Regions from separate parts of the Homo sapiens genome. Here region 2 is linked to region 1. Evidence: fine-mapped expression QTL. A gene starts in region 1. The other region holds a variant in brackets. All regions are shown on one strand. Distances are from middle to middle. Region 1 holds the start of VIRMA (vir like m6A methyltransferase associated). Region 2 overlaps VIRMA (vir like m6A methyltransferase associated).

Evidence for each region. PIP is the estimated chance that this variant, and not a neighbour inherited with it, causes the effect.
Region 2: its variant is the best candidate, but not a certain one, in a credible set for the expression of VIRMA in iPS cells (iPSCORE, PIP 0.54).

The regions. Positions count from the first base shown.
Region 1 is chr8:94,551,706-94,554,625 of GRCh38, reverse strand. It overlaps VIRMA (vir like m6A methyltransferase associated), which reads left to right and starts at 1,157. Exons shown (of 24, transcript NM_015496.5): 1 at 1,157-1,241. The coding sequence starts at 1,179. It overlaps VIRMA-DT (VIRMA divergent transcript), which reads right to left and starts at 913. Exons shown (of 2, transcript NR_183271.1): 1 at 719-913. RefSeq lists an enhancer at 844-1,463.
Region 2 is chr8:94,527,450-94,530,369 of GRCh38, reverse strand. VIRMA (vir like m6A methyltransferase associated) reads left to right here. Exons shown (of 24, transcript NM_015496.5): 7 at 1,028-1,300. Among named protein-coding and RNA genes, the nearest start is that of VIRMA, 25 kb to the left of the region's middle. The variant G/A (reference allele first, on the strand shown) is at 1,510.

The DNA of each region.
Region 1 (2,920 bases):
CACCGCACCCGGCTTGCGATGAGAGGAGTTAAACTTGTTTTGTTTTGGTTTGTGTCTTTTTTTTTTCTTTTTGTGAATAACGGGGTCTCGCTATATTGCCCAGGCAGTTCTCCAACTCCTGGGCTCAAGCGATCCTCCCGCTTCATCCTCCCTAAGTGCTGGATTACAGGCGTGAGCCAAAGCGCCCACCAACCCTGTTTTTTGGGTTTTTCATGCTAGTAAACATAGCACTGGTTCATTCTTCGTACCTGCTATATACTATTATATAAATACGCCACTATTTACTTATTACTTCTGTCAATGGCACTTATGTTTCCTGCTCTTTTGCAACTTATAAAGTTTGCTATGAATATTCTTGTATTTGTAGATACGTGGGCGAGAATTTTCCTAGAAGAGTGGTAGGCACGTGTAATTTTACAAGCTATTTCCTAGTTGCTCTGCTAAGGGTTTGTGCCATTTAGACTACCAAACCCGCTGAGTTTATCTCGTTGCTCCAAAGCTCATCAACACCCGACAGAGAGGCTTACTTTTCATTCTGCCTCCTGTTTTATTGTTCATGGTACTTCACGTTACACAATTCCTCGAATTTTATTTCAATTACTCCTCACAATCACCCTGTAGGTTAGGTACGATTTTTCACATTTTACAGATAAGAAAACAAAGAATCTCTTCGTTGGTTGAAACAACAGTTTTTCTTCTATTTAAATCAATGTCTTACTTTTCAACCTCGCTCACTGTTATCTTTTTGCTCCCAGCGCTGGAAAAAGTGGGACATCCCCTTCGGTGGGTGTACGGGGTTGGTATCCAAAGTTGGCAGCTTTCCCTCCCCCTCCTCCATCCACCGTCTCCAAAACCCCGTCTCCGCACTTCGCCACCCGGAGACCGCTGTAGCTCTGTAACGCGGAGGAACGACAGGGTTTGAACCACTGGAGACCCCGTAGTCCCCATCTCACTTCCCTCTGCCCCCCCTCTGCGTTCTAGGGGGCGCCCTCCGCCGCGCTGGAAAAGGCGGGGCCGGCAACTCCGGGCAACAAGATGCGTTGGGATAGGCCGAGGTTTGCGGCGCTAGTGCTCTGGTCACCGGAAGTCCCTCTGTTTCTCCCTCTCCTGAGTCGCTGTCGCGGAGGCTGGAGCGCTGCCCCGGAAGTCCTCCCCCCTGTTCCCCGCCCGCGGCAAACATGGCGGTGGACTCGGCGATGGAGCTGTTATTTTTAGATACTTTTAAACACCCGAGCGCTGAGGTAAGGCTTGGCGACTTGATTCTGACGCTGCTTCTTGACTTGGGATCTTTACAAAAAAACCGTTAGGCGTTCTCCACTTTTCCTTCTGCAGATTGCTTCTTTAATTTCTCGCTTACACACAGACACCCTCCCCCGAGCTGTGTGAGCATCGCGTCTGAGGGAGGGCTGCAGCAGCCCCTTCATTTCCTTGCTTTAACTTGGGCCCTCCGTGTCTTTGGTCGAGTTGGCTTTTCTGCTTGCATGGCTTTATTTTTTATTTTTCCTGTCAGGTTTGGGCCTTGAGAAGGATCAGGGTTCTCAGGTTTACCTCAGATGGCGTTTGGGAGGGGTCTTGGTTTGCCAGTAGTGTTTGACAGTAGTGCCGGAGTCTGAGCAGTTTACGTTGGCTTCGTGGTTTCCGAATCACGATGTTTCTAAATCCTTTCTCTTTGGCCTCTTTTCTGTCGGGAATTATGTTCCCCAGTTGTGACACTTACTTGGTTTAGGATTACGGTGCTCTCCGATTTGGCCTGAAACTTTAATACTTGTCTCTCGGAGAGATTTCACACATTAGGAATGAGATGCATTCACGGAGAATACTTGCGAAGAGGGGAGAGTTGAGAGAATTATAGTTAAACTCATCAGCAGACATCTCCTTTGAGGTTGGAGGTGGAATGTTGTGGAGTAATATTTCTGTACAAAACTACTTGAGCGCCCCTTAATGTACAATTGGCCCTGCAATATGTAGATTAAACATAGCTGGTTAACTAAAGATTCCTGAAAGCAGACCAAAAATGAACTTGAATGAAGTCTACGGAGAAATTGTTAAAAAAAAAAACGAACTTCACATTTTTCTGTCTTAATGTAAGCTTAATTTAGAGAACTGTTCTTTCTTTGGAGATTATTTTTTTCCTTTTATTTTTATCAAGTGTGCTCTTGTATCAAGCTTTTTGAGGACAGATATAATTTCTCTTTTTCTCAGCTGTATCTCCAGTGCCTAGGACAGTATTAGCAAAATGTAGGTGCTCAATAAATATTTGAATGGAAAATGTTTAAAATGTTCTTTCTTTTATGAGATAGTAATGATAGTGGGTAGTGATTGTATCATAATGCTTTACTTGGCAAAATAAAAAGTTGACAGCTGTGATCTAATTTAACGAATGGTTTATAGGTTTGTAAAAGTCAAAAGTTGGAGAACTTTGAGTTAGCATTTCTTACTGACAGTTAATTTATGGTCTGACATTTAATGTGGGTCAGTTAGCACTGTTTGTTCAATGACTATATCTAACATTCTAGCCGAGATTTAGAAAACCCTCAATGGAGGCAGTAGTTGGATCAGAACAAACTTATGGTGTATAGAAATAGAGAACAGTTAAAACTGAAAGAGCCTGGCGCAGTGGCTCATGCCTGTAATCTCAACGTTTTGGGAGGCGGAAGCAGAAGGATTGCTTGAGTCCAGGAGTTTGAGACCATCCTAGGCAACACAGTGCAACCCCTGTCTCTACAAAAGAAAATTAACTAGTTGTGGTGGTTTGATCTTGTTGCCCCAGCTACTCGGGAGGCTGAAGTGGAAGGATCATTTGATCCTGGGAGTTCAAGGCTGCAGTGAGCTAAGATCACACCACTGTGCTCCAGCCTGAGCAACAGAGTGAGACCCTGTCTCGAAAGGAAGAAAGAGAAAAAGGAAAAAGAGAAAGAGG
Region 2 (2,920 bases), 24 kb after region 1:
GTATACCACCACGCCTGGCTAATTTTTTATAGAGAAGAAGTTTCCTATGTTGCTCAGGCTGGTCTTAAACTCAAGTGATCCTCCCGCCTTGGCCCCCCACAGTTTTGGGATTTACAGGTGTGACCCACAGTGCCTGGCCACTAATTGTATTTTTCTTTCTGTCAGCCAGTTAACTTGTTAAAAAAAAATTTGTTAATTCATTTGAAGCTGTGCCAAAATAAAGTGTTAGTTTGCTGTAGTGATATGTACAAAAGAGTACCAGTTAAAAATCACTAGTATTGGGCTGGGTGTGGTGGCTCATGCCTGTAATCCTAGCACTTTGGAAGGCTGAGGCAGGAGGACCTCTTGAGCCCAGGAGTGTGAGACCAGCCTGGGCAACATAGGGAGACCCTGTCTCTATTAAAAATAAAAATAAAATAAAATAAAAATAGGCCGGGCGTGGTGGCTCACGCCTGTAATCCCAGCACTTTGGGAGGCCAAGGTGGGTGGATTACCTGAGGTCAGGAGTTCGAGACCAGCCTGGCCAACATAGTGAAACCCCATCTCTACTAAAAATACAAAAATTAGCCGGGTGTGGTGTTACACGCCTGTAATCCCAGCTACTCAGGAGACTGAGGGAGGAGAATTGCTTGAGCCTGGGAGGCGGAGGTTGCAGTGAGCCGAGATCATGCCACTGCACTCCAGCCTGGCCGACAGAGTGAGACTCTTGTCTCAAAAAAAGAAAATAAATAAAAATAATAAATAAAATAAAATAAAAATAAGTATGTACTGGAAAAGACAAAAACGTGTATAGTTACTTAAAAGCTAAAAAGAAAGGGAATGGCTTAACAGTATACTTTATTATTGCTCACTGTAGAAGTTGTACAGTGTATACTCAATATTTTTTAAACAGTGAGTAATTCTTTTTTTTTAAGGGTATTTATAAACTATATCAACCAAAATATTAAGTAGTTGCCATATCCAGTCTTGCTGCCTTTTGTCATTTAAACCATTAAAATAGTCTGTGCCTTAAATCTCAATTTTTCAGTGTCTGGTGACAAGGAAGAGGATGCTCCTCATAGAGAAGATTACTTTGAGCCCATTTCTCCTGATCGGAATTCTGTTCCCCAGGAAGGGCAATATTCTGATGAAGGAGAAGTAGAAGAGGAACAACAAGAAGAAGGAGAAGAAGATGAAGATGATGTGGATGTAGAGGAAGAAGAGGATGAGGATGAGGATGATCGACGAACAGTAGACAGTATTCCTGAGGAGGAAGAGGAAGATGAAGAGGAAGAAGGTGAAGAGGATGAAGAAGGTGAAGGTGGGTTATGTTAGCTAGGACTTTGGGGTTTAAGTACTAGAAACTAACTCGATACAGCTTTGAAAAATGCAAAAGAATTTCTAGCAAAGATAAATGGGTTCCAAGAAACCCAGGGTCAGAATGTAGCTAGGCCTCAAGGCATGACTAGAAATGAGATTTCCATCTCTCCTCTGCTTTGTGTGTTTACTTTAATCTCCCCTGTTTAACCA[G/A]CCAGCCTAAACTGCCTGACTGTATCTCAGTTTTCTGTTTGACTTGCTACAGTATGAGTTTCCCTTTGACAGCATCAGCTTTTGCCAGGAAAACAGGGTCATGTAACAAATACATGTTGGTTAGGGATTTGGTGGCTGTTTTCAGAGTAAGGAGTGGTAAAGCTAGGTGGAATTCCTAAAGATGTCTGCCACCTAGATATTTTAGCAAATGCTACATTATTTTTAAAAATTCAAGGGAAAAATCTCAATTACACAAGTACATGTGGCAGTATGATACAGTCCTTTAATTAGGCTTTATTTTTCCTTTGAAAGCAAAAAGTGAGAGATACTCAAGCTAATTGGCTCTTAATTTGCCCAAGAAATGGCATTTAATGTTAAAGCATTTATGCAGAATAACAGATAATCTGCCTTGGCTTTTTTCTACAGATAGTAAAAATGAATGTCATTTCAGAATCATAGGGGCTCTTTTAAAAAATATCAAATAGCTAGATTATCATGTGATTTTTTTTTAACTTTCCCCATTCACAGATTATCAAATAATTATTTCTAGATTTATTGTATTTGGCAAAAGTAGTTAAATGTTAGGCAGGCAGTTTTCTTTTTTTCTTTCTTTTTTTTTTTTTTTTTTTGAGACAAAGTCTCATTCCATGACCCAGACTGGAGCGCAGTGGTGCGATCTTGTTTCACTGCAACCTTCACCTCCAGGGTTCAAGTGATTTGTCCCTCAGCCATCTGAGTAGCTGGGCTTACAGGCACGCACCCCTACGCTCAGGTAATTTTTGTATTTTTAGTAGAGATCAGGGTTTCACCATGTTGGCCAGGCTGGTCTCGGACTCCTGACCTCAAGTGATCTGCCCGGCTTGGCCTCCCAAAGTGCTGGGATTACAGGCATGAGCCACTGTGCACAGCCATATTTTAAATGGACACATTTTCTATCAAAATATAATGGAGACCTACAAAACTGTGTGATAGGTAAATGCAGAGAAATAAAAATTCTGGAATGTGAAATTGTTATAAAACGAATCTACAATGGTTTTGCTGAAAGTATTTGGTTTAACCTGATGATATTAGTTCTTACTTAACTTAAAACAACCAGTTTTTTTTGGTCTTAAAAATAATCTCTCAAGAGGACAAGCATAATTTCTTTCCTCCTGAGATAGATATTTTTGTTACTTTGAGGCATTTCTAATTATATTTCTGTGAGGAAAAGATATCTGTTACAGTTAGTTGTAAAACTGAACAGATACAGAGGAATTTGCTTAAAATGTTTGTCCAGTTTTCAGGTCTCACCCCTTTCAGGAAAAAAAGAAGTTTGTCCATAATTCTATTAGAAATTATAAAATGTTGTAAAATTGTGGGTAAGATGTTGGGGCAGAAGTTGGTTTTGTTGAGGAAATCATTTTTAATGTTT